Linked DNA regions of Homo sapiens. The protein of the gene in region 1 binds, or shares a complex with, the protein of each later gene. Links are inferred from orthologs where the notes say so. Each region holds a gene or a part of one and is shown on either strand. Other genes may lie near its edges. The genes, in order: TLE6, OOEP, KHDC3L and NLRP5.

What was found.
Region 2: the proteins of TLE6 (region 1) and OOEP are in contact, whole or in part, in a cryo-EM structure (PDB 8H94), measured with the Mus musculus proteins. The link is inferred for Homo sapiens from one-to-one orthologs. Residues at the interface, in NP_444484.1 of Mus musculus: Trp256, Ser258, Phe304, Thr305, Arg306, His307, Val318, Asn320, Val322, Asn323, Glu332, Ser333, Asn354, Ser355, Arg356, Leu373, Ala374, Ala375, Pro376, Ser377, Leu378; in NP_080756.1 of Mus musculus: Arg32, Pro33, Trp34, Trp35, Pro37, Gln39, Glu40, Glu67, Trp70, Met71, Gln73, Gln94, Pro95.
Region 3: TLE6 (region 1) and KHDC3L share a complex: the UniProt entries of both Homo sapiens proteins name them as parts of the subcortical maternal complex.
Region 4: the proteins of TLE6 (region 1) and NLRP5 are in contact, whole or in part, in a cryo-EM structure (PDB 8H94), measured with the Mus musculus proteins. The link is inferred for Homo sapiens from one-to-one orthologs. Residues at the interface, in NP_444484.1 of Mus musculus: Pro147, Gln148, Pro149, Val150, Cys158, Gln159, Phe161, Leu162, Ile163, Gly165, Leu166, Trp167, Leu169, Phe170, Ser173, Arg174, Gln175, Lys176, Asn177, Ala247, Asp248, Lys249, Phe250, Lys252, Pro253, Ser255, Trp256, Leu261, Glu262, Cys265; in NP_035990.1 of Mus musculus: Gln185, Phe188, His283, Arg307, Glu326, Lys327, Lys329, Ser330, Ser334, Pro335, Leu336, Met444, Ala447, Glu448, Trp451, Tyr465, Tyr507, Tyr508, Glu511, Glu515, Asn517, Phe520, Phe522, Leu540, Met543, Lys544, Leu547, Val571, Lys574, Leu575.

Annotation. Positions count from the first base shown.
Region 1 is NC_000019.10:2,973,414-2,980,573, reverse strand, and holds the start of TLE6 (transducin-like enhancer protein 6), read right to left. Parts: upstream 3,011-7,160; 5' UTR 2,964-3,010; exon of another isoform or gene 2,955-2,963; intron 2,377-2,954; 5' UTR 2,341-2,376; coding exon 2,290-2,340; intron 475-2,289; coding exon 392-474; exon of another isoform or gene 167-391; intron 1-166. UniProt on the Homo sapiens protein: Component of the subcortical maternal complex (SCMC), a multiprotein complex that plays a key role in early embryonic development.
Region 2 is NC_000006.12:73,368,045-73,374,705, forward strand, and holds OOEP (oocyte-expressed protein homolog), read right to left. Parts: upstream 1,854-6,661; 5' UTR 1,749-1,853; coding exon 1,559-1,748; intron 1,342-1,558; coding exon 1,162-1,341; intron 820-1,161; coding exon 740-819; 3' UTR 511-739; downstream 1-510. UniProt on the Homo sapiens protein: Component of the subcortical maternal complex (SCMC), a multiprotein complex that plays a key role in early embryonic development.
Region 3 is NC_000006.12:73,358,424-73,364,697, forward strand, and holds KHDC3L (KH domain-containing protein 3), read left to right. Parts: upstream 1-4,234; 5' UTR 4,235-4,306; coding exon 4,307-4,475; intron 4,476-4,671; coding exon 4,672-4,851; intron 4,852-5,132; coding exon 5,133-5,437; 3' UTR 5,438-5,748; downstream 5,749-6,274. UniProt on the Homo sapiens protein: Component of the subcortical maternal complex (SCMC), a multiprotein complex that plays a key role in early embryonic development.
Region 4 is NC_000019.10:55,989,770-55,996,795, forward strand, and holds part of NLRP5 (NACHT, LRR and PYD domains-containing protein 5), read left to right. Parts: intron 1-7,026. UniProt on the Homo sapiens protein: Component of the subcortical maternal complex (SCMC), a multiprotein complex that plays a key role in early embryonic development.

The DNA.
Region 1 (7,160 bases):
TGTAGAGACGCGGTTTCACCATGTTGGCCAGGCTGATCTTGATCTCCTGACCTCAAGCAATCCGCCCGCCTCCGCCTCCCAAAGTGCTGGGATTACAGGTGCGAGCCACCATACCCAGCCGTTGCAGTATTTTTCAACAATAAAATTGAATGCCAACAAATCCATGTCGAACAGGAAAATCAAAATTTTAATATTTGTTGGTAATTTTGTTTAATCAAAAGCTGGGATGGGTATTGCCGGGTTCTCCATGCTGGGTATCTGCATGGCTTCCTGTTCCTGAGCCTGGCTCTTGGGCCAGCAGCCTCTAGACCACTCACTAGGACCCCCGGGAGAGAGGCCAGGTGGGGCTCCTTCCCAGCGTGAGACCTCCGGCCCCTGGAATTGCTCTCACCTGGGGAACTGCTTGAGCCGATTTAGAATGCCCTGATAATTCAGCGTCGGAGAGCTCTCAGAGTTCGAGATCCCAGGACAAGGCTGGAAAGGTCAAAGCAAGGTTACATAAAACTTACAATGCTCCAACACCCAAGACCCCCGGTCTCCACCTCAACATGGCATAGGCATTAGGTTGGTGCAAAAGTAATTGTGGTTTTTGCTTTTTTTTTTTTTTTTGGAAACCGAGTCTTGCTCTGTCGCCCAGGCTGGAGTGCAGTGGCACAATCTCAGCTCACTGCAAACTCTGCCTCCCGGGTTCAAGCGATTCTCCTGCCTCAGCCTCCCGAGTAGCTGGGATTACATGCGCCCGCGCCCCCCTCCCCCGCCCGCCCCCGGCAACACACCTGGCTTATTTTTGTATTTTTAGTAGAGATGGGGTTTCACCATCTTGGCCAGGCTGGTCTCAACCTCCTGACCTCATGATCTACCCGCCTCGGCCTCCTAAAGTGCTGGAATGACAGGCATGAACCACCGCGCCCGGCCTCTCTTATTTCAGTAAAGAGCATCTTCCATTTTGCACTTTGGCCTAAAGTCTAAAATGTTCACCACATTCTTGTGATGAAAATAGAAGCACAAAATATTTTTAAAAATAAAAGTCCGGGCAAGGTGGCTCATGCCTGTAATCCCAGCACTTTGGGAGGCCGAGGTGAGCAGAACACCTGAGGTCAGGAGTTTGAGACAACCCTGGGCAACTCAGCAAAACCCCGTCTCTACTGAAAATACAAAAATTAGCCGGGCGTGGTGGCGCGCACCTGTAATCCCAGCTACTCGGGAGGCTGAGGCAGGAGAATCACTTGAACCTGGGAGGTGGAGGTTGCAGTGAGCCGAGATCGCGCCACTGCACTCCAGCCTGGGCAACAAGAGCAAGACTCAATAAAATAAAGTCTCTTGGCCAAGTGTGGTGGCTCACACCTATAACCCCAGCACTTTGGGAGGCTGAGGCAGGCAGATCACGAGGTCAGGAGCTCGAGACCAGCCTGGCCAACATGGTGAAACCCAGTCTCTACTAAAAATACAAGAAAAATTTGGTGGTCATGGTGGCAGGTGCTTGTAGTCCCAGCTACTCGGGAGGCGAGGCAGGAGAATCACTTGAACCCGGGAGGCAGAGGTTGCAGTGAGCTGAGATTGCGCCATTGCATTCCAGCCGAGGTGAGTGTGAGACTCCGTCTCAAACATAATAAAATCATAAAGTCTCAAAACAAAATATCCCTCATCTGACTCCTTTACAAAAAAAAACGTCTGCTCAGCCCTGAGAGCCTAAATTTACAAATGGTCATCTCTGGGACGCAAAGTGCAGGGAGCGGGGATTGCTTGTAAAACATCAACCAAATACATGATGTGTTCCTGTGTTTTTATCACATATGTGATTAGATGCTACATTTTTTTTTAGATGGGATCTCACTGTCACCAAGGATGGAGTGCAGTGGCACCATCATAGTTCACTGCAGCCTCAAACTCCTTGGGCTCAAGCCAACCCTCTGCCTCAGCCTCCCAAGTAGCTGCAACTACAGGCCCACGTCACTAGGCCCAGCTGATTCTTCTAGTTTTATTTTTTACAGAGACAGGGTCTCACTACGTTGTCCAGGCTGGTTTCAAACTCCTGGGCTCAAGTGGTCCTCCTGCCTCGGCCTCCAAAAATGTTGAGATTACAGTTGTGAGCCACAGTGTCCAGCCTACACTTAATTTTTTTTAAAAAACACGGCTCCTTGGCACCTGTCTTGAGTGTAGCAGCGACCAGTATTGTCTTCAGCTGCGAGGCCTGGGCGGGGCCAGCCCAGGTCACAGGTGGAAAAGGGGCAGAACCACATTGGGCCCGGGTTTCCCTTGAGGGCTGATCCCACCACATGCCCTCCTCACCGAAGTGCTTTTCGGGGGGCCCTTGGGTCTGGGCTGGTCCCTAGAGGTCATCTTCAAGGCAGTAGCCTCCAAGACTTTAGCCAGAGTCTAAAACAACAAGGAGACGGCAGGTCTTGAGGGACAGAAAATAAGGCAGTGCCAGGGAAGCAAGGCACCCGTTACCCCACCCGCACCTCCCAGTTTGGTAAGTCTCCAGGGACCCAATCCTGCGGTTCTCCCATGCGTTCCCTAGGTCCTGTCCTCACTTATCAATGCCTCCAGCTGCCCAGATTCATGGGGGCGGGGACCCAGAAAGAACTGAGCCTTGCCTCCCAGGCCTCACCCTAGGAGGCTGGGGTGGATAGTGCACATACACTCCCTGCTGGGGGCAGTCAGGGACGGGGGAGCCCAGGGAAGGTCGCCAAAGCTCAACCTTAGTTTTGAGACAATTTCCTAAAGCGCAGGGAGATCACTAGAAAGGGGTTTTGAAGGATGACTAGGAGTTAGCCAGGTGCATTAGGCGGAATTCATCAGACAGAAGAAACGACCTCTCTCCACCTCCATCCCTGCTGCAGCACCCAGCTTCTTCCTTGCCTCAGTCCTGCCCCTCCACGCCCCTGCAGCCCCTTCCCCGGCCGGGAATCCTGGAGTCCCCCCAGCCCCCTAGAACACGCCTGGCAACTCACGTCCCTCACCGGGCGGAAGCTGCGGAGGTCAGCCAAGTTCAGGCCAAGAGGAAACTCCTCCTTCCCCCACCGGGGGCCATTTGACCCATCGGGCCCCGCCTCGTCCCGCCTTGTCCCCGCCCCGTCCCGCCCAGGCCCCACCCAGCCGCCACCTGGACCGCGAAGCAGATCAATGAAGGCGCAGTAGCTGCACGTGGGTTCGGGCTCCGGGGGGGGCAGGCCTCTGGCGGCGCCGGCCAATAGCGAGGCCGTTTACGCACGTGGGTCGCGTACGCCCTCCCTGATTGGTCGGCTCTCCCCGGCCGCCGGCCATGCTGTCACTCAGCGAGCCGGGAGCCTCTGCTTTACCCTTTCGGTCCCGCTGCCGGGAAGGGCGGACTTGCAGAGCTATAGGCAATTTGGGGTCCCAGCGGGGGCGGGGATATTTAGGAGGGCGTGGGGCTTGAGGCTCAGAGGCTGGAACTTGGGCAGGGATAGGTGGCGAGTAGTTGCATTGTTTTACGCATTTTTAGCCTTGTCCGGAAGTGGCTTATGGCTGGAGGTGAGGAGTGGGAGGTGGGTGGGTTCAATCTTTAGCGCTGTCACCCCAATTCTTAGATACGGGCTAATTACATTTTCCTCAATATTAAATAACGTGCAATGCAAACGAAGCTTCAAGTCCTCTTTCTGGAGCCAACTTACTGGGTCCCCTTGATGGTCCCAGCCCCGGGCTATGCATTTATCACCGAATTTTCCCAACTGCTCTTCCAGCCCAGTGACAAAGGCTCTGAGAGCAGAAAGCGGGACAGCAGAGGCCCTGAGGCTGATACAGTATTGCCGGATGCAAGCGCGGGGTGGGAGAGAGTGGTGGGTATTCCAGACGGAGGGAATAGCGGAACCTCTCAGGCAGAGCTGGGCTGGTTACAGGAGCAGCCAGGGAGGCTAACGGGGCTGCGTGCACTCCGAACAGGCCTGGGATGATTTCCGAGAGGTAAGTGGGTTGCTGCAGAGCGAGAGAAACCTGCTGTGTGGGGTCGTGGGGATAGGAGTAAGGGGATTTCGGAGTTTTGTTTTGGCCTATTCAAAATATGAAGCCAAGTCACCATGGCTCACACCTGTGATCCCAGCATTTTGGAAGGCTGAGGTGGGAGGATTGCTTGAGGCCAGGAGTTGGAGACCAGCCTGGGCAACACAGTGACACCGCGTCTCTACAAAAAATTTAAAAATTAGCCAAGTGTGGTGGTCATGCACCTGTAGTCTCAGCTACTGGGGAGGCTGAGGCAGGAGGATGGCGTAAGCCCAGGAGGTTGAGTCTGGAGTGAGCTATGATCGTGCCACTGCACTCCAGTCTGAGCAACAGAGCAAGACTCCATCTCAAAAAAATATATAGCTATAATATATATAAAGTATATATATTATATATATAGTGGTCAAGCTGCAGTTCTGGAGTGAGAGCCCGTTTCTTTCTGTTTGGCCCAGGACCTGGTACTGGCATTAGCAGTTCACTCTGCCAGGGACAGTCTCTCTCAGACAGCCACCGGCTGGCTCCTTACTCCCTCAGCTCCCTACTTAGAAATCACCACGTTGGGCCAGGTGCTGTGGTGCACGCCTGTAATCCCAGCACTTTGGGAGGCAGAGGTGGGTGGATCATCTGAGGTCAGGGGTTCGAGACCAGCCTGGCCAACATGGTGAAACCCCAGCTTGGCCGGGTCACACCTGTAATCCCAGAACTTTGGGAGGCCGAGGCGGGTGGATCACGAGGTCAGGAGATCGAGACCATCCTGGCTAACACGGTGAAACCCCATCTCTAATAAAAAATACAAAAAAATTAGCCGGGCGTGGCGGTGGGTGCCTGTAATCCCAGCTACTGAGGAGGCTGAGGCGGGAGAATGGCGTGAACCCGGGAGGCGGAGCTTGCAGTGAGCCAAGATTGCGCCACTGCACTCCAGACTGGGCGACAGAACAAGACTCTGTCTCAAAAAAAAAAAAAAAAAAAGAAAACCCCAGCTCTACTAAAATACAAAAATTAGCCAGGCATGGTGATAGGCACCTGTAGTCCCAGCTACTCTGGAGGCTTAGGCAGAAGAATCACTTGAACCTGGGAGGCGGAGGTTGCAGTGAGTCGAGATTGTGCCACTGCACTTCAGCCAGGGTGACACAGCAAGACTCTGTCTCAGAAAAAAAAAAAAAAAATCACCACATCAGGCCAGGCGTGGTGGCTCACGCCTGTAATTCCAGCACTTTGAGAGGCCGAAGCAGGAGATCACTTGAGGTCAGGAGTTCCAGACCAGCCTGGCCAACATGCTGAAACCCTACCTCTACTAAAAATACAAAAATCAGCCGGGCACGGTGATGCACATCTGTAATCCCAGCTACTTGAACCTGGGAGGCAGAGGTTGCAATGAGCCAAGATGTCGCCATTGCACTCCACCCTGGGCGACAGAGTACTCTGCCTCAAAAGAAGAAAAGAGTTCATGACCAGCCTGGCCAACATGGCAAAACCCCATCTCTACTAAAAATACAAAGGTCAGCTGAGTGTGGTGGCAGACGCCTGTAATCCCAGCTACTTGGGAGGCTGATGCAGGAGAATCGCTTGAACCCGGGAGGTGGAGGTTGCAGTCAGCCAGGATCGTGCCATTGCACTCTAGCCTGGGCAACAAGAGTGAAACTCCATCTCAAAAAAAAAAAAAGAAGGGAGGGAGGGAGGGAAGGAAGGAAGGAAGGAAGGATCTCATTGAAGAGACCTCCCAACCCTCCCTTCCCTTCCCTATATTTCCCTTTATTTCCTCTTTTTTTTTTTAAACACAGGGCGAGGGGGAGGGGAGTCTCAGTACATTGCCCCGGCTGGTCTTGAACTCCTGACCCCAAGTGATCCTCCCACCTCCACCTCCCAAAGTACTATGGATTACAGGCATGAGCCACTGTGCCGCCACCGGGCCTGTATCTCCCTTTCTTATTTTATTTTTTTCCGAATGTGGTTTGGATTGCAGCTAATCTTGTAATCTCAGTGGCTCCTGTGGCGGGAGCCTCCCACGATAGCTCTAAGCCCTGCATGTTCTAAATGCAGAGAATGCTGTCAGGATTCTCCTACAGAGACGCCTCCCATCCTCTGACCTCCCCATGTGACACAAATGCCCGATAGGTCTGCTGACTTCAGATCCAAACCCAGCCAGAGAAACTCTTCCCTGTTTTCTGTTCTGTGCTCTCTCGCTGCGGGGAACTGAGGGTTTCAATGCTGGGACAAGTAGCCCCCAGAGGTGGTGATGTGCACACGTGACTTGGGTTTTGCAGCTGGTCCATGGAGAACAAAGGGAGGGGCCGTCATGAAAGACCTGCAGAAAAGCTTCCCACCCACGAACCCTCCACTGTCCCATAATTATTATTTTTTAATTTTTATTACTTATTTTTTTGAGACAGAGTCTCTCTCTGTCCCTCAGGCTGGAGTGCAGTGGCGCGATCTTGTCTCACTGCATCCTCCACCTCCCAGGTTCAAGCGATTCTCCTGCCTCAGCCTCCCAAGTAGCTGGGACTACAGGCGCCCGCCACCACACCCGCCTAATTTTTGTATTTTTAATAGAGATGGAGTTTCACCATATTGGCCGGATCGGTCTCAAACTCCTGATCTTGTGATCCACCTGCCTTGGTCTCCCAAAGTGCTGGGATTACAGGTGTGAGCCACCACGCCTGGCTATTATTATTATTTTTTTGTGACAGAGTCTTGCTCTGTCGCCCAGGCTGGAGTGCAGTGGCACGATCTTGGCTCACTGCAACCTTTGCCTCCTGGGTTCAAGCGATTCTTCTACCTCAGCCTCCTGAGTAGCTTGGATGACAGGCGCCCGCCACCACACCACCTCCAGCTAATGTTGTATTTTTAGTAGAGATGGAGTTTCACCATGTTGGCCAGGATGGTCTCAAACTCCTGACCTCAAGTGATCCACTCATCTCGGCCTCCTAAAGTGCTGGGATTACAGGCGTGAGCCACTGCACCCAGCTGCATAATTAAAGTGTGTTTTATTTATGGTCCAGCCTCCTAATATGGGCTTTGCTTTTTCCCCTCCCTCTGATTGTAGACTTTCAGCTGGGCACGTTGCTTTATCCAAGACTCACAGGGTTGTCTCACAGGGTATCCAGTAAGCACATGTGGCTATTTAAGTTAAAATTAATTAAAATGAAATACAATTTAAAATTCCATTCCTCAGGCACCCTGCCCGCATGTCAGGCGCTCAG
Region 2 (6,661 bases), on another chromosome or scaffold:
AACTACCATTAATGAACGCTGACCGCCCAGGCTTGCTTCTTGCAACGTCATCCTCTGCCCAATGGATGCCCCACTCCAGGAAAACGCACAGCTGGTGCTCTTCGGGGGATCAATTACCAGCTTCAAAGTGAGAGCCTCAGATAAGCTGCTTTAGTAGTATGTGTGAGCTCATCAGAAATGAAATTTTAAGCCCCACCCCAAAAGTACTGAATCAGAATTCTCTGGAGAAGGAGCCAAGGAAATTGTGTTTTAACAAGCTCCCAAGGTGATTTCTTACAAGCTTTAAAGTTTGAGGACCAATTATGTAAAAACAAAACAGATCACCATTTGTGAGGTTATCTGCCCCTGCATATCCGCTCCCTGTGGGTGAGGGCCTCTCTCTGACCAGAAAATCATAAAAGGATTAGGAGTTTCAAAATGATGGGAATTCAGGAAAAAAAAACAAAAACAAAAACCTACAAAACTATCACCTGCCCACCCTTCATATCAAAACATGAGTGGGAGTCAATCTTTTATAAATTTGCTTTATTATAAGTGTGTGAAGATCTTAATGCTTTTGGCAAAATAGCCATTTCTTTATTAGAATAGTTCAAACTCACTCTTGCAACAAAATAAACCACAATCCATCAAGACACAGGAAAAAGGAATACGGGGATTTAAGAATGCTATACTTGCTTTTCTTCAACTTTAGCAGCAAAAGTTAGAAAGTTAAGATGTTCCCAACAGTAACTATGTTGTCTTAAGCAACAGGATCCTGGGGAGAGTGGGGGTCTGATGCATGGGCCTTCAAGTTCTTCTCAAGGTGTTTCATCTTCTCAGCTGGAAGAGAAGCAGTTGATACTAACCATGGACAGGGACAAGTGTTTGCTGTTTCGAACTACTCCGTGACTGGGAGTTGGGGAGGAGAGAAAGATCTGCGATAGTGCTGTAACCCAGGTGAGGCTGACTTGGGCAGTGATGGGTCTGAATCTATCAGATCTCTGCTGACTTTCCCAAGGTCCTACCCCAGGATCCCCTCCCAACAAACTTCGTACAGCTAGCTCCCTGGGGTCTGGAAACCAAGAAATTTTGAGAAGGTTAAGGGAGGATGGAAGGAAACCGAGCAAGGCCAGTATGGTCACTCGTGGCTTCCTCCACATGCAGGTTCTCAAAGACCCTCACCTCGGGCACGATGTTCTCGGTGAAACCATGCCAGGCACAGGAGCATGCTCTTCACCCGATTCTGTACACGGGGCCGCCCGAAAACGGTGATTTCGACTAGGTTCCCTGAGTCCACTATGTCCACTGTCAGCAGGGCCTGGCTCGTCCACTCCATTTCTGGAATTATGGCTCGGTCTGGGCCTAAACAAGTAAGGAAAAACTCTGAGGGGCTGCACGGTGGCAGGTTAGAAGCTGGATTTGAAGGGAATGTTGGCCAGGGAAGGGAAGAACTGGAAGGTGGGCATCACTGCAACACTCCTGGCTTGCGAATCTGGGAAAGAGACTGTAGAGAGCTGCTCTGCCAAGCCTCTCTCAGACTGGAGGTGGACAGCCCACTAGCACACCTGGGGTCGCTCACCAAAGAGCTCGTCTGCCAGCCATGCCTCTAGGTAGAACACCAAAGGGTCTCTCAGTTCCTGCACCGGAAACCACCAGGGCCGGATGCGAATCTGTGGCGGCGGAAGTGGTAACCTACGCAGCTGCTCCAGGGAGTGGGCCGGAGTCTGTTTGCCCCGCTGGGACTCAGCGGCACCAGCATCATCGACCATACTGGGACCAGCAGCCGCGGAGCGCGCTCGAGGCGGCTTTCGCAAGACCTCTTCCAGACCCAGGCGCGAAGCTCGGGCTCTCTTTTACCATATTCGACCCGCTCCGCCCCTTCCGGCGGCGCCTCGCACCGCGTCGGGGTGAGCGGGTGCAAGCGACGCCCCGGCATAGCGGCACCATTGGACACTTCCTGCGCTGCTTCAATCGCCGGGATTGCCTCTTTGACCTTGAACTAGTATTCATTTGGCCTCCTGTTGGGTCTCCAATGCTCTCCTTCGTCATCTCTGCTCGTAAGGTATGCTTAGCCTGAAAGTCCTCTGCCCACCTTATAGCTGATTAACAGTGTGAGTTTGAATTGACGACTCTATTAATAGACTGGGAATCACCTTTGCTGGCTAGGTTAAGGTTTCATCGTTGCCTCCCAAAGATAGGTATATCGGACCCAGGGCAGGCTTGTTCAATGTGTCAGTTTTCTCTGTTCTGCTCCCTGTTGTTATCTTCTGACTCTCCGGATGGTTACCATTTTTAAATCATTCAAGCAAGTGTGTCATGTTTTAAACAACACGTCAGAGGTGGTCTTATAGAACATGTAGCAAGTTAGACAATTTTCCTTTATTTCCAGTATCCTAAGACAACCATTATCGATGGACATTTTTTCCCAATGTTTGTAATTTTAATTAAAAATTTGGATTATGAAAGGTTTCACACATCCAAAAAAGTAATATAACACGGCCATGTACCCTCCCCGAGTTTAACAGATGTTGACATTTCCCCACATTTGCCTCACTCCTCTGTTTTTAAAACAGATATTACTCAAGCATCTTTCCTTTCCTTCTCCAGAGGAAATCATCCTGAAGCTAGTGTGTATATATCATCCCCATGCATGTCCTTACACATTTTCTACTATATTTGTAGAAATATTGTTTGGTTGTTTCAGAATAGTATCTGCTGAATATACTATTTCGTTCTTACAATTAACTATGTGTTTGTTTTAAAACTTCTATTTTTCTGAGATAGGTCTCACTCTCTTGCCTAGGCTGGAATGCAGTGGCACGATCTCGGTTCACTGAAGCCTCGACCTCCCAGGCCTAAGCGACCCTCCCATCTCAGCCTCCTGAGTAGCTGAGACCACAGGCACCTGCCACCACACCCAGCTATTTTCCAGCTCTTTTTGTTGTTGTTGTTGTTTGTCTGTTTGTAGAGACAGGGTCCCACTATGTTGCCAGGCTGGTTTTGAACTCCTAGGCTCAAGCAGTCCTCTCACTTTGGCCTCCCAAAGTGCTGGGATTACAGGCGTGAGCCACCACAGCCAGCATAGAAGAAAAAACTCAAAATAGTGAAAAGCATGTTCCAGACTCCACATGATCATCTAGGACTGTGTGGAGGTTCCAGTTTTCTGCCCCTGATCCCACCCCCTCTCACCCTCAATGGTTTCTGAGAAAACTTGACTATCAGGTGTGCAGGGCATACTTACAGGAAAACAAGATTTAGCTATGGCTCTGATGCAATAAACATTTAAAACCTTAACCTGGCCAGGCAAGGTGGCTCATGCCTATAATCCCAGCACTTCGGGAGGCCAAGGCAGGAGGATCACTTGAGGTCAGGAGTTTGAGACCAGCCTGACCAACATGGAGAAAACCGGTCTCTACTAAAAATACAAAAATTAGATGGGTGTGGGCCAGACACGGTCACTCATGCCTGTAATCCCAGCACTTTGGGAGGCTGAGGCGGGCAGATCACCTGAGGTCGGGAGTTCGAGACCAGCCTGACCAACATGGAGAAACCTAGTCTGTACTAAAAATACAAAAGATTAGCCGGACATGGTGGTGCATGCCTATAATCCCAGCTACTCAGGAGGCTGAGGCAGGAGAATCACTTGAACCCAGGAGGCGGAGGTTGTCGTGAGCCAAGATCACACCATTGCACTCCAGCCTGGACAACAAGAGCAAAACTCTGTCTCAAAAATAAAAAAAAATAAAAATAAAAAAATTTGGCCAGTGTGTGGTGGTTACCTGCAATCCCAGCTACTCGAAAGGATGAGGCAGGAGAATTGCTTGAACCCCAGAGGCAGAGGTTGCAGTGAGCCAAAATGGCACCACTACACTCCAGCCTGGGCTACAGAGTGAGACTCCATCTCAAAAAACAAACAAAAACCCCTTAACCTAATCAAGGCCAGATATTGTGGCTCGTGCCTGTAATCCCAGCCCTTTAGGAGGTGGAGGCTAGCAGATCGCTTAAGCCAAGGGGTTTGAGGGTGCAGTGAGCCATGATCACACCACTGCACTCCTGCTTGGGTGACAGAGCGAGACCCTAAAAATAAACCTAAAAAAATTAAAGCCTTAATCTAATCATGAGACGCACTTACATTACTGTAGACAAAGAATATTTTACCCAGCATGTATAGAATTTTAACAGCTTCTTTAGGGGGACTGTGGTGATCTGAGCCACACAGGAATAAGTTAACTTCTCTCAAATTCCACTTCCTGGTGTGGAAAAGATGGCACCCCATTATCTTGTGGGGATCTTCTGCCATAAACCCCACATAAATCCCCAGCATGCTGGACACCGTGAAGCAGTTAGTCTCAGATACAACTCAGTCTCAGGTGTAGCCCAACAGTGGCTAGTTCAGTTATTTCTTCCTCAAGGAAGAAATGATCCTGTGGGATTACTGCTCTCCCCTGAGGAAAGAACCTCCCTGCTCAGTGAGAGGCCAGAATCTGATTCGCAAGTGTTGGTTTCGCATCTCTCAGCTTTGGGGAGACCGATAGGCCTTTGCACCTGAGCCTGCCAAAACAGGAGGGCTATTGTGCAAGAAAACCTTTTGGGAGCTCAGTCAGTCACGTGGGCCTCCTTGGAAGCCTGGGGACAAGTGGGCAGTTTTCCCGAGTGCATGGAAGCCAACACCAGAGACTGAGGTGGAGAGATGCACTGAGCCAACTTGGCTGGGTTAATAGAACACTTTTCCCGCCATCTGGGTTAGCTTCTTGGGGTGCCAGGGATCCTGCAGTGGGCCTGACGCCAGCCCGAGATCAAAATGGGAAAGCGGCCAGAGCAAACTGACGTTTCACAGAGCTCTTAAGGGCCGGAAGATTCTTTCTCACCTTCTCTTTTTCTTTCCTTTTTTTTTTTTTTTTTTTTAAAAACGAAAGGCCTCACATATTTATTACTGAATCCAGCCAACCAACGTGTTCATAACAGATTCAGAGAGGAAAACACGTCGAAATCTCCAGATAGTGGTGACATTTTCAGCTTGATATGGTAACATGATCGTGACCTTCAGACAGCATAAATATGTGTGCCATCTCATGTGCAATTCCTTATAGACCCAGCTTGGTTCTTCTCCAATGTCTCCTTTTGGAGTTGTACCTGATTTTATTTCCAGTTTTCATCCGAATCCACTGGGGAATGGGACGATTTTGCTTTTGTTTCTTGGCCAGGAATCGCTTAATCCTGAAAGTCTTGTGAGAAGACATGGCGAGCAGCGGAGTCAAGAACACACCACGATGGCGGAGAAAGGAAGAGGGCTCCTTCTCTTCTTTTGTTTTCTTTTTTGAGACAGGGTCTCACTCTGTCACCCAGGCTAGAGTGCAGTGGCACGATCTCAGCTCACTGGGTAGCTGAGGCAGGTGCATGCCATCACACCCACTGTAGAGACAGAGGTCTCCCTATGTTGCCCAGGCTGGTCTCGAACTCCTGGGCTCAAGCAGTCCTCCTGCCTTGGCCTCCCAAAATGTTGGACTACAGGCATGAGCCACTGCAACTGGCCAGGGCCAGAAGATTTTAAGTATGCAATTATTTTTTATTTATTTATTTATTTAGAGACGGAGTTTTGCTCTTTTGCTCAGGCTGGAGTGCAATGGCGAATCTTGGCTCACTGCAACCTCCGCCTCCTGGGTTCAAGTGATTCTCCTGCCTAGGCCTCCCAAGTAGCTGGGATTACAGGCATGCACCACCACACCCAGCTAATTTTGTATTTTTACTAGAGGTGGAGTTTCACCATGTTGTCCAGGCTGGTCTCGAACTCCTGACCTCAGGTGATCTACCCACCTCGGCCTCCCAAAGTGCTGAGATTATAGCCTTGAGCCACTGCGCTTTGCCAAAAATATATTTTTTAAATATATTTTTAAAATATATATACATGCCTGTAATCCCATCACTGGGAGGCTGAGGCGGGAGGATCACTTGAGCTTAGGAGTTTGAGACCACCCTGGGCAACATAGAGAGGACCTGTCTCTACAAAAAATAAAATAATTAGCTGGTTGTGGTGACATGCGCCTGTAGTCCCAGCTACTCGGGAAGCTGAGGAAGGATAGCCTGAGTGCACAAGGTCGAGGCTGCAGTGAGCTATGATTGCACCACTGCACTCTAGCCTGGGTGACAGAGACCCCATCTCTAAAAAAATAAAATAAAGATAACGTACAATTTTATGTATTTTTTTAATGGAGGAAAGGGGCTCCATTAAAAGTACCTGGAGTCTATGAAAGTCGTAATGCCTGGCTGCCTTCATCCAGTGATGTGGAACCCCAGAGGCCCCAGTATGACTAGGCCCTTTCCAGGACCCACTCCCATGTGTTTGCCCAGCTTTCCACTTCTGTGGTACAGAGCCAATCAGATCTACAGGACCAAAACTTGAAGCCAATCCCAATCCTACCAGCAACAAATGATGATGGTTGCAGAGATGGTAAAGAAGGCTTAGATTCCAGGCCTGCCCCCAGCCCTGAAATTGTAGTCAAACACATACTTCTCCTTTCACCTTACCTTCTCTGTATATTTGCCTGTGTGATCATAGTCTGGAGTTTTTTGTTTTTGTTTTTTGAGATGTGGTTTCACCATATTGTCCAAGCTGGTCTGGAACTCCTAGGCTCCAGCAACCCTCCTGCCTTGGTCTCCCAAAGTGCTGGGATTACGACATGAG
Region 3 (6,274 bases), on another chromosome or scaffold:
ATGTTAAAGATCACTTCTGCTGTAGGTCTGGGTTGCAGCAAGTGTCTTAGAGGACATCTGGCCATTGCATGGGCTCTGCTTGCCACCCATCGGTACTTGCATTTCCAAATAATGACTTTTTAGAAAGGTGGAACACTTAAAAGCATATGCATTGCTTTTAAAAGCATATGCATTGCTTTTATCCAAAATTAATGTCAATGTTTATCATATTATAATGTTAGCAACAAGGCTGGTGAGTATATAGGTTGGTTCGACCTCGGAGGGATGCCATTTGGCAATACCTTATCAATTGGAAATTTACAGATCCTTTGACTCAGCAATTCTACATTTGAAATTTCATCCTATAGTTATACTCCCCCTTGTAAGAAATGACATGTAGAAGGATACTGATTTCAATAGCATTACTAGCACAAGTAAAAGATACCATACAAGGTAAATATTCACGAAGATTGGGAAAAAATACATATTAAAGAAATAAGGCTGGGTTCCGTGGCTCATGCCTGTAATCCCAACACTTTGGGAGGCTAAGGTGGGAGAATCGCTTGAGCCCAGGAGTTCGAGACCATCCTGGGCATATAGTGGCCATGTTGCAGGCACTGAGACATGATGAAACCCCATCTCTATTAAAAATACAAAAATTAGCTGGGCTTGGTGGCGGATGCCTGTAATCCCAGCTACTCGGGAGGCTGAGGCATGAGAATCGCTTGAACCCAGGAGGTGGAGGTTGCAGTGAGCCGATATTGCACCACTGCACTCCGGCCTGTTGACACAGCGAGACTCCATCTCAAAAAAAAAAAGACAAAAACAAAAACAAAAAAAGACCAGCCTGTCCTAAAAAAAAAAATTAAAACAAATTAGTTGTGATGGCACATGCCCGTGATCTTAGCTACTTAGGAAGCTGAGGTGGGAAGATCACTTGAACCCAGAAGTTGGAGGCTGCTGTGAACTATGATGGGTCACTGCACGCTAGCCTGGGTGACGGAGTGAGATGCTGTCTCATCAAAAATAAATAAATAAATAAATCCATTATCAATATCTAGAAAAACAAAACTTTGTCAAGAAAAGAAATCATAGTATATACAACTATGAATAGTTTACAAAGTCGTAATAGTGCGAACACTGAATATTGATCTAACAAAATCATATCTCTGTTTTAAGATGATCTAGGTCTGATGCACATAGTTAAGTCCCAGCTTACCTGGGTTGGAAGAGGGTGAAAGATAGTGGTAGATATATAAATCCTAGCCTCCCAAAGTACTAGGATTACAGGCTTGAGCCACCGTGCCCCGTCGTTTTTTGTTTTTTTTTTTTTTGTTTGTGTGTGTGTGTTTTCTTTTTTCTTTTTCTTTTTCTTTTTTTGTTGAGAGGGAGTCTCGCACCGTCGCCCAGGATGGAGTGCAATGGCGCAGTCTGGGCACATCGCAACCTCCGCCTCCCAGGTTCAAGCGATTCTCCTGCCTCAGCCTGTCGAGTACCTGGGATTACAGGCGCCAGCCACCACGGCCAGCTAATTTTTGTGTTGTTAGTAGAAAGGGATTTCGCCATGTTAGTCAGGCTGCTCTCAAACTCCTGACCTCGTGATCCGCCTACCTCGGCCTCCCAAAGTGCTGGGATTATAGGTGTGAGCCACTGTGCCCGGACTTCTACGTCGTTTTTTGACATTTTTTATTTCTTTTTTTTTTTTTTCCGAGACAGAGTCTTGCTCTGTCCTCCAGGCTGGAGTGCAATGGCACGATCTTGGCTCACTGCAACCTCTGCCTCCCGGGTTCAAGCAATTCTCCTGCCTCAGTCTCCCGAGTAGCTGGGATTACAGGCCCCTGCCACCACATCTCGCTAATTTTTGTATTTTTAGTAGAGATGGGGTTTCACCATGTTGGCCAGGCTGGTCTTGAACTCCTAACCTCAGGTGATACGCCCGCCTTGGCCTCCCAAATTGCTGGGATTACATGTGTAAGCCACCACGCCCGGCCTGTTTTTTGACTTTTTTTTTTTTTTTTGAGACGGAGTCTCACTCTGTCACCCAGGCTGGCGAGCAGTGGCTCAATCTCAGCTCACTGCAACCTCCACCCTCTAAGTTCAAGCAATTCTCCCGCCTCAGTCTCCCAAGTAGCTGGGATTACAGGCACCTGCCACTGCGCCCGGCTAATTTTTGTATTTTTAGTACAGATGGGGTTTCACCATGTTGGCCAGGCTGGTCTTTAACTCCTGACCTTGTGATCCACCCGTCTCAGCCTCCCAAAGTGCTGGGATTACAGGCATGAGCCACCATGCCCGCCCTGTTTTTTGAGTTTTTAATAAAAGTCATTGTGACTGGTGTATGATGGTATATCGGTGTGATTTTAATTTGCATTCCTCTTCTGATTAGTGATGCGGAGCATTTTTTCATGTGTTTGTAGGCTGCCTGTATTTCTTCTTTTGAGAAATATCTCTTCATGCTCCTTGCCCAGTTTTGTTTGTTTGTTTTGTGGAGACAGTCTCGCTCTATCCAGCAGGCTGCAGTTCAGTAGCCTGATATCGGCTCATTGCAACCTCCGCCTCAGGAGTTCAAGCGATTCTCATGCCTCAGCTTCCTGAGTAGCTGGGATTACAGGTGCCCGTCACCATGCCCGGCTAATTTTTGTATTTTTAATAGAGACAGGATTTCGCCATGTTGGCCAGGCTGGTCTAGAACTCCTGGCGTGAGCCACTGTGCCCGGCTTTGCCCCATTTTTAATGGTTTTTTTTTTTCTTGTTGTTTTGCAAAGTACTTTAATCATCTCAATTAGCAAGTAAGAATTTCCCAACTACTAAATCATTCCTACATATGAAATATATTCAGCCGGTTGGGCATGGTCTGAATATATACATTCGGCCTATTAATGTGGCAAACCTGAAGTTCTCTTCAGTGTTTCAATACTGAATAAAAATAAATTATAAATTATAATTTGTCTTATAGCAACACATCTAAAACAGTTATTATTATTATTATTTTTGAGACAGGGTCTCACTCTGTCACCCAGGGGGGAGTGCAGAGGCACCATCACTGCTTACTGTAGACTCAGCCTCTCTGGGATCAAGGGATTGTCCCACCTCAGCCTTCCGAGTAGCTGGGACTACAGGTGCGTGCCACCTAGTCCAGCTAATTTTTGTATTTTTTGTAGGGATAGGGTTTTATCATTTTGCCCAGGCCAGAAGGATTGCTTGAGACCAGCTTGGGCAACATAACGAACCCTTGTCAGAAAGGGAAGGGGAAAAGAAAGGAAAGGAAAAGGGAAAGGAAAAAAGAAAGGAAGGAAGAAAGAGACAAATATAATTGTGTTATTTAGAGAACAGAGGCATCACTGGGCATGGTGTCGGGAGCTTGTAGTCCCAGCTACTGGGGGAGCTGAGGAGGGAGGATCTCTTGAGCCCAGGAGATGGAGGCTGCAGTGAGCTATAATCACACCACCGCCCCCTAGCCTGGGTGACACAGAGAGACCCTGCAGCAAATTTTAAAAATTAAAAATAAAAAAGAGAATAGAGATGTCAAAAATTTTCAAGGAATCTCATCTTGTGTCCAAACCACGAGAACTATCTGTGGTTAGGTGTGTTCATGGCTGCATTAATTAAAAGCGTGCTATAGTCCCACTACTGGGGAGGCTAAAGAGGGAGGATTTTTTTGAGCCCTGGAGTTCGAAGCCAACCTGGGCAACATAGCCAGGCCCCATAACTTTTTTTCTATCCATTTTTTTTTTTTACTATGCAAATCTCACTACACAGACCCTATAACAGAAAAAAAAAAGAAAAAGAAAGAAAAAAGGCGGGCGCTTATTCTGCTCTGTACTCAGCAGTCTCAGGCAAGTGACAGAATAATCTGAAAACCTGGTCCAGAGGGAGGAAACGTAGTGGCCAGGGATCAGAAGCGCGTGAGGGACCTATGAAGTATTCATTCTGCAAGTATTAGTTCTTTCCTCTGGGAGAGATACTGGGCTTGCCCACGCCTTCCTGAGTCCATGGTTAAGACTCCCGCTGGGCACCAGCGGATTCCTGGTGCCCAGAGCCCGGTTCCTCCTACCGGGTGCGCTGGGAAAAGGGCTGCTCCTGACAGAAGGGACACTCTAAGAGCAGCCCAGGAACCGGTGCACTTGGGCGGCCTCGGAAGAAGCCGGGGCTCCTGGAGGCGGAGGCGAGGCCTGGGACCCAATAAGAAGGGCGCGGCTAGAGAGGAGGGGCTGGCCAAAAGCCCTTGAAATAAGGCCCAGGCAGAACCGCGGTTCTAGTCTCCCAGCTCCAGCTCGGCCTTTGGGTTTGCTGTGGTGTCCTTGTCTCCTGCAGGACCGGCCGCAGCATGGACGCTCCCAGGCGGTTTCCGACGCTCGTGCAACTGATGCAGCCAAAAGCAATGCCAGTGGAGGTGCTCGGTCACCTCCCTAAGCGGTTCTCCTGGTTCCACTCTGAGTTCCTGAAGAATCCGAAGGTAGTTCGCCTTGAGGTTTGGCTGGTGGAAAAGATCTTCGGTGAGTGGACCAAGAAGGGGCAGCCCCCATGCGGCTTCTTTCTGCCACCCATACCCACAGCCCACATATTCTGGCTGCGTTCCAGGGCGATCCTCACCAGTAGCCAATGCCCTCTGGCTGTCTCCTCCTTCCACCTTCCCCTCCCAAGACCCCCGGGAGCCACCGGTCCCTCACAGCCTCTCTGCTACCCGCGCAGGCCGGGGCGGAGAACGCATCCCGCACGTCCAGGGTATGTCCCAAATCTTGATTCACGTGAATCGATTGGACCCTAACGGCGAGGCTGAGATCTTGGTATTTGGGAGGCCTTCTTACCAGGAGGACACAATCAAGATGATCATGAACCTGGCTGACTATCACCGCCAGCTCCAGGCGAAAGGTACGGGGCTGGGAATAGGGCTACCTGGAGCAAACCCTGGCTCCGTAGGAGTGATCCTGGGGTTTCCTGGCTGCTGGGGCGGCAGTCTCGCCCTCCCAGTCGGCCTGCGGTTGGTGGGTGGGGGAGGGGGCGGTTCTCGCTGCCACGGATCCAGAAGGCCAAATTGAACCCTCGTTCTGGGATTTCTGGCTCCTACTCCCGCAGGCCGCTTGGGTGACTGTCCTTTTTTGGAGAGGATATAGAGACACAGCTGTGGCCTCTGCACACTGCTCTTCTTCCAGGCTCAGGAAAGGCCCTCGCCCAGGATGTCGCCACTCAGAAGGCCGAGACCCAGCGGTCTTCAATAGAAGTCCGGGAGGCCGGGACGCAGCGTTCGGTGGAGGTCCGGGAGGCCGGGACCCAGCGTTCGGTGGAAGTCCAGGAGGTCGGGACACAGGGTTCTCCGGTGGAGGTGCAGGAGGCCGGGACCCAGCAGTCTCTCCAGGCTGCCAACAAGTCGGGGACCCAGCGATCCCCCGAAGCTGCCAGCAAGGCAGTGACCCAGCGGTTTCGCGAGGATGCCCGGGACCCAGTTACTAGATTATGAAGGCATCTCAGGCCCTGGAGCCAGAGCCAGTCAGGGGTTAAAGTGAAAGCCCGTATTTCCGCCCAGAAGCTGGGGTTGGGGAGAGGATGTGGATTTTTTGTTTTACCCTTTCTGTTGCATGGTTGCAAACACAAACTTGAGTTCTAATAAAGAATTGCAAAGTGGAAGCCCGCCCCCCGCCTCCCCCCCGCCTCACTTAAGTCCAGGAAGCTGGGGTGGCGAGGAAGGATGATGTGGATTGTTTTTGTTTTACACCTTCTGTTGAATGGTTGCCAACACAAACTTGAGTTCTAATAAATAATTGCATTTCCCTAACGTCTGTATTTTGGAAGGTAGAGGGGAGGGAAAGGCGCATTCCTCCAACAGCCCAGTTCTGCCCTGCGCAGCCCTCTACCTCGAGGCAGGTGGGGCCTGTGGTTCCTAGCCGCCCGAGGTGGCCATCTTCCCCGGCTGTGGTCCGGTGTGCCCCTTGTACTCCTTAACCGCGCGCATCTGGCTTTAACAGGTGAGAAGCCTCTCTGGCCCACTAGGAAATCTCTCCAAGCCCGCTGTCGTTCTACTCAAGGTGACTTGGGATGAGAAAACTGGGTCGCTTGGGGGCCAGCTGGATTTGGAAGGCCCTGGGTGTATTGCTACTCTGTCACAGAACACTTTCTCAGCTGGGGAAAATGACATCGGGGAAGGGGGAAACGAAGAGACCCGAGCTGCACTCTTGGGCTGCACTGTTGCAGTCTTCAGGTCTTGCTTGGGTCACCCACCTTCCACGAAGGTCGTGGACACCAGCAAGATACAGGCATCGGCTACTCTTTCCTCAGTTACTATGGCAGCGAGAAGCCC
Region 4 (7,026 bases), about 53 Mb from region 1:
CCACCTGTTTTTAATCGACTCCTAAATGGTCTTCAGTCTTGCTGTTTTACACACGGCTGGGTCTAATTGCATTTAAAACGGATAAAGATTGTTAAAGTACCGTCCAAAAAGATGGCACCCATTTACACTTCACTAATGTAGGAGCACCTTTTCCTTCACCCATCACAAAGCAGCGTCCAGTCACACATTGTGGACATTGTCAGCCTCACATGTCAAACGTAGTACATCATTTTGGCTATTTACCTTATCAGTAATAACTTTTTTTTAAAGTACATTTAAAAGTCATGCCGTTTCTTTTTTTTCTTTTTTCTTTTTTTTTTTTTTTTTTTTTTTTTTTTGAGACAGTGTCTTACTCTATGCCCAGGCTGGAGTGCAATGGTGAGATCTCAGCTCACTGCAACCTCTGCCTCCCGGGTTCAAGCGATTCTCCTGCCTCAGCCTCCCGAGTAGCTGGGACTACAGGCACACGCCACGATGCCCGGCTAATTTGTGTATTTTTAGTAGAGATGCGGTTTCACCATGTTGACCAGGCTAGTCTCGAACTCCTGACCTCAGGTGATCCACCTGCCTCAGGATCCCAAAGTGCTGGGATTACAAAAGTCATATGCAGTTTTTTAACTCTTCAAAATCCTTCTAATAGGCTGGGCACAGTGGCTCATGCCTATAATCCCAGCACTTGGGGAGGCCGAGGCAGGTGGATCATTTGAGGTCAGGGGTTTGAGACCAGCCTGACTAACATGGCGAAATACCCTGTCTACTAAAAATACAAAAATTAGGCCGGGCACGGTGGCTCATGCCTGTAATCCCAGCACTTTGGGAGGCCCAGGCGGGTGGATCATGAGGTCAGGAGATCGAGACCATCCTGGCTAACACGGTGAAACCCCGTCTCTACTAAAAATACAAAAATTAGCCGGGCATGGTGGTGGGCGCCTGTAGTCCCAGCTACTCGGGAGGCTGAGGCAGGAGAATGGCAGGAACCCGGGAGGCGGAGCTGGCAGTGAGCCGAGATGGTGCCACTGCATTCCAGCCTGGGCGACGGAGCAAGACTCTGTCTCAAAAAGAAAAAAAGCTGGGCATGGTTGAGGGTGTCTGTAATCCCAGCTACTGGGGAGGTTGAGGCAGGAGAATCACTTGAACCCAGGAGACGGAGATTGCAGTGAACTGAGATCATATCACTGTACTCTAGCCTGGGCAACAAAAGCAAAACTCCATCTCAAAGAAAAAAAAAATTCCGCTGAGCTGTTGATCATTATCATGGATTGGAAGAGCTGTTTACGTAATGCATTCTTTGTCATGTCTCAAATTTATTTGCAGCAGTTTTTTCAGCGGGACTTTAAAGATTTGTTTGTTTTTCTGGAGTGAGGAGGGTACTGTATTGAATTAATCTGTCATCTTGTCTCTTTTATACCATTCGATTGAGACCTTCTATTCCATTTGCTCATTATTTGGGGGCTAAATGTAAAGTAGGAATTCATGAACATAAATATTTCAAAATTTAGCCCCCGGAAATGGTGACCTTCTATCGTAGATGTTAAAGTGCAGCCTAGACATCAACAGAGTGAATATCATTCTTCTTAGAATTTTCTTGTCTAGTTTTGGCTTTTCATAGAAACATTGAGTTTCTTGTCCTGATAACAATATCAGCAGTACTTCTTGGATGATATTATACTGATGGAGGATGACTGATGTGTTGGGAATCTGCCTCTGCCTCACCACATTGAGCCTTTTATCTAGCAGCCGCATTTTAAAGCTCTCAAAACAGATAGCCACTTTTCTAAATTATGCATGTTTTACCTCTATAGTTGCTGTTCATTTGATCTCACGTTTAACTGGTTATTAGATTTTGTGTGGGATTTCATCGTTACATTTGTTACCAGCCCAATTTAATAACTACATATAATTTAAAATTGAGTAATTTATTAGGCATACATACCTACATACAGATGTTAATTTTCACCTTTTTCCACTTTTATACCTCCTCTTTATCTGATTGCTTTCCTATCAAATATAAATTAGGTAAATATAAATAATAGTGGAATATCAGATATAAAGAATAGGGAGAGAGTACAAAACTGAACGGAAGTGCTGACAGCTAACATTCTTTTTTTACTTTTTAGTTTTGGGGGTACATGTGAAGGTTTGTTACGTAGGTAAACTTGTGTCATGGGGGTTTGTTATACATACTATTTCCTCACCCAGGTTATTAAGCCCAGTACCCAGTCGTTATTTCTTTCTGCTTCTCACCCTCCTCCCACCCTCCACCCTCAGGTAGACCCCAGTATCTGTGGTTCCCCTCTTTGTGTCCATGTGTTCTTATTTAGCTCCCATTTATAAGTGAGAACATGTGGTAGTTGGTTTTCTGTTCCTGTCTTAGTTTGCTTAGGATGATGGCCCCCAGTTCCATCCATGTTCCCACAAAAGACATGATCTCATTCTTTTTTATGGCTGCATAGTATTCCATGGTGTACGTGTACCACATTTTCTTTATCCAGTCTGTCCTTGATGGGCATTTAGGTTGACTCCATGTCTTTTCTATTGTAAACAGTGCCACGGTGAACATTTGCATGCATGTATCTTTATGGGAGAATGCTTTATATTCCTCTTAGTGTATATACCCAGTGATGGGATGGCTGGGTCCAACGCTACTGCTTTTAGCTCTTTGAGGAATCTCCACCCTGCTTTCCACAATAGCTGAACTGATTTACACTCCCACCAACAGTGTATAAGCTTTCCATTTTTTCCTGCAACCTCAGCAGCGTCGGTTTTTTGACTTTTTAATAATGACACGTAACATTCTTATGGGATTCTCTGTAGGGCTTGTGTCAAATCCAGCCCATTGCCCAGTTTTGTAAATAAAGATTTATTGGAACACAGCTTTTCTCCTTTGTTGACAAATTGTCTACAGCTACTTTCCCAGTGCAGGAGCAGCTAAGCACGGGTGGCAGAGAGCAAATGGCCCCAAAGCCAAAAATGCCTGGCTCCTTCTGGGAGATTTGCTGACCCCTGATCTTTGTCAAAAATAGATACATTTGCTGCAGTTTTTCCTTTATTTTAGTTGACACATAACTGTACATATTTATGGAGACTTTTTTTTTTTGAAATGAATTTTCGCTCTTGTTGCCCAGGCTGGAGTGCAATGGTGCAATCTTGGCTCACTGCAACCTCTGCCTCCCAGGTTCAAGCGATTCTCCTGCCTCAGCCTCTTGAGTAGCTGGGATTACGGGCACCTGCCACCATGCCTGGCTAATTTTGTATTTTTAGTAGAGATGGGGTTTCTCCATGTTGGTCAGGCTGGTCTTGAACTCCCGACCTCAGGTGATCCACCCACCTCGGCCTCCCAAAGTGCTGGGATTACAGGTGTGAGCCACTGCGCCCGGCCCGAGTGATATTTTGATACCTGTATACAATGTATCATGATCAAATCAGGGGACTTAGCATATTCATCACCCCAAACATTTGTGTTGTGAACACTCTGTCCTCCCTTCTAGCTTTTTGAGAGTGGACAATAAGTTATAGTTCACCATATTCACCTGCAGTGCTGCAGAACACCTGCACCCATTTCTCCCTTCTACCTGTAATCTTAGCACCCATGAGCCATACTCTCCCCCTCCTCTCCCCCTCCTCTCCCCCTCCTCTCCCCCTCCTCTCCCCCTCCTCTCCCCCTCCTCTCCCCCTCCTCTCCCCCCTCTCTCCCCCCTCTCTCCCCCCTCCCTCCCCCTCTCCCCCCTCCCCTCCTCTCCCCCCTCCCCTCCCCCCTCCCCTCCCCCCCTCCCCTCCCCCTCCCCCTCCCCCTCCCCCTCCTCTCCCCTCCTCTCCTCCCCCCTCCTCCTCTCAACCTCCCCTCTCCCCTCTCCCTCCTCTCCCCTATCCTCTAATACCCACAATTACATCCCCTACTTCCATAGTCCCATTTGCTCAATTTAACTCCCACATATGAGTAAAATACATTCAGTATTTAGTTTCCCATGCCTGGTTTATTTTGCTTCACACAATGAACTACAGGCTGTAGCTCACATGAAGAGCTACAGGCTCATCTGTGTTGTCACAAATGGCAGGATTTTTTGAAGGCTGAAACATGTTCCCTTGTGTGTGTATACCACGTTTTCTTGATTCATTTGTTGATGGACAGTTAGGTAGATTACATATCTTAGCTATCGTGAATAGTGGGGTGGTAAACATGAGAGTGCAGACATACCTTTGATATACTTCGGGTAAATCACCAGATCGCTGGATCATAGGGTATTAATCTATTTTCAGTTCTTTGAGACACTGCTACACTGTTTTCCATAATGGCTGTGCTAATTTACATTTCCACTGACAGTGGAAAGGAGTTTCTTTCTCTGCATCCTTGCCAGCATTTATTTTTCGTCTTTTTTGATAGTAGCCATTCCAACTAGAGGGAAATGCAAATCAAAACCACAGTGAGATTGCGATGATGAGTAATGTTGAATCTTTTTTCGTATCTGTTGGTCATTTGGATGTCTTTTGAGAAATGTCTGTTCAGGTTTTTACCCACTTCTTAAATGGATTACTTGGAGTTTTGCTATACAGTTGTTTGAGTTCCTCATATATTCTGGGTATTAGTTCCTTGCCAGATCATTATTTTGCAAATATTTTCTCCCATTCTGCGGGGTTTTTTTGGGAGGGGGGACAGAGTCTTGTTCTGTCACCAGGCTGGAGTGCAGTGGCACCATCTCAGCTCACTGTAACCTCCAACTCCCTAGTTCAAGCGATTCTCCTGCCTCAGCCTCCCCAGTAGCTGGGATTTCAGGCACGTGCCACCACACCCAGCTAATTTTTGTATTTCTAGTAGAGATGGAGTTTCACCATGTTGGCCAGGATGGTCTCGATCTCCTGACCTCATGATCCACCTGCCTTGGCCTCCCAAAGTGCTGGAGTTACAGGCCTGAGCCACTGTGCCCAGCCAGGTTGTCTCTTTACTCTTGGACTATTTCCTTTGCTGTACAGAAGCTCTTTAGTTGGATGTACTCCTATTGGTCTATTTTTGCTTTTGTTGCCTGTCCTTTTGAAGTCTTAGCCGCAAAATATTTGCCTTGACTTGTATTCAGAAGAGCTTTCCCTATGTTTTCTTCTGGTAGTTTTATTATTTCAAGTCTTATGTTTAAGTACTTTATCTTGAGTTGATTTTTATATATGGTGAGAGACAGGGGTCTAGTTTAATTCTGCATATGGTTATCCCGTTTTCGCAGTACCACCTAGTGAACACAGTGTACTTTCCCTAATCTTGGTGCCTTTGAAAATGAGTTGGATGAGTTCATGCTCTTTGTAGGGACATGGATGAAGCTGGAAACTATCATTCTGAGCAAACTATCGCAAGGACAGAAAACCAAACACCACATGTTCTCACTCATAGGTGGGAATTGAACAATGAGAACACTTGGACACAGGGTGGGGAACATCACACACTGGGGCCTGTCCTAGGGTGTGGGGCTGGGGGAGGGATAGCATTAGGAGAAATACCTAATGCAAACGATGAGTTCATGGGTGCAGCAAACCAACATGGCACATGTATACCTGTGTAACAAACCTGCACGTTGTGCACATGTACCCTAGAACTTAAAGTATTAAAAAAACTTAAATATTAAAATATTCTAACAAGTCCTGAAAAATACATTAAAAAAGAAAGAGTTGGCTATAAATATATGGATTTCTGAATTATCTATTCTGTTGGTCTATGTCTGTTTTCATGACAGTGCCATGCTGTTTTGGTTACTATAGCTTTGTGAAGTCAGGTAATATGCCTCCAGCTTTCTTTTTGCTCAAAATTGTTTGGGCTACTTGGGATCTTTTGTGGTTCTATACAAATATTAGGATTGTTTTTCTATTTCTGTGAAGAATGTCGTTGGTGTTTTGATAGGGATTGCATTGAATCTGTAGATTGTTTTGGGTAGGATGGCCATTTTAACAACATTCTTCTAATCAGTGAACGTTAGATGTCTCCATTTTTATCTATCCTCTTCAATTTTTTTCAGTATTCTGTGGGTTTTACTATAGATATTTCTTACCTCCTTAGTTAAATTTATTTCTAGGTACATTTTTGTAGCTATTATAAAGGACATTGCTTTCTTTTTCAGCTAGTTCATTATTGGTGTTTAGAAATGCTACTGTTTTTATGTTGATTTTTGCATCATACTGAGTTCATTTATTATATAAAAACTTGCATCATACTGAAAAATTTATCCAAAAATCAACATTTTTGTATGTTGATTCTGCAACTTTACTGAATTCCTTTATCAGTTCTCTGTCTTTTGGTGGGGTCTGTAGGCTTTTCTAAATGAAAGATTATATTGCCTGCAAACATGAACAATCTACTTCTTCTCCAATTTTGATGCCCTTTGTTTCTTTTTCTTCCCTAATTGCTCTGGCTAAGACTTCCAGTACTGTGTTAAATAGGAGTGGCGGAAGTGGGCACCCTGTGTGCCAGTTCTTAGGGAAAAGGCTTTCTTCTTTTCCACATTCAGTATAATGCTAGCTGTGGGTTTGTCATACATGGCCTTTATTGTTCTGAGTTATGTTTCTTCTGCGTCTTATCATAAAGGGATGTTGAATTTTTTTTTCTTTGTTCATCTTTTCTTTTATACTTTAAGTTCTAGGGTACATGTGCACAACGTGCAGGTTTGTTACATATGTATACATGTGCCCTGTTGGTGTGCTGCACCCATTAACTCATCATTTACATTAGGTATATCTCCTAATGCTCCCTCCCCCACAACAGTCCCCGGTGTGTGACGTTCCCCTTCCTGTGTTCAAGTGTTCTCATTGTTCAGTTCCCACCTATGAGTGAGAACATGTGGTGTTTGGTTTTTCGTCCTTGCGATAGTTTGCTCAGAATGATGATTTCCAGCTTCATCCATGTCCCTACAAGGACATGAAATCATCCTTGTTTATGGCTGCATAGTATTCCATGGTGTATATGTACCACATTTTCTTAATCCAGTCTATCACTGATGGACATTTGGGTTGGTTCCAAGTCTTTGCTATTGTGAATAGTGCCACAATAAACAT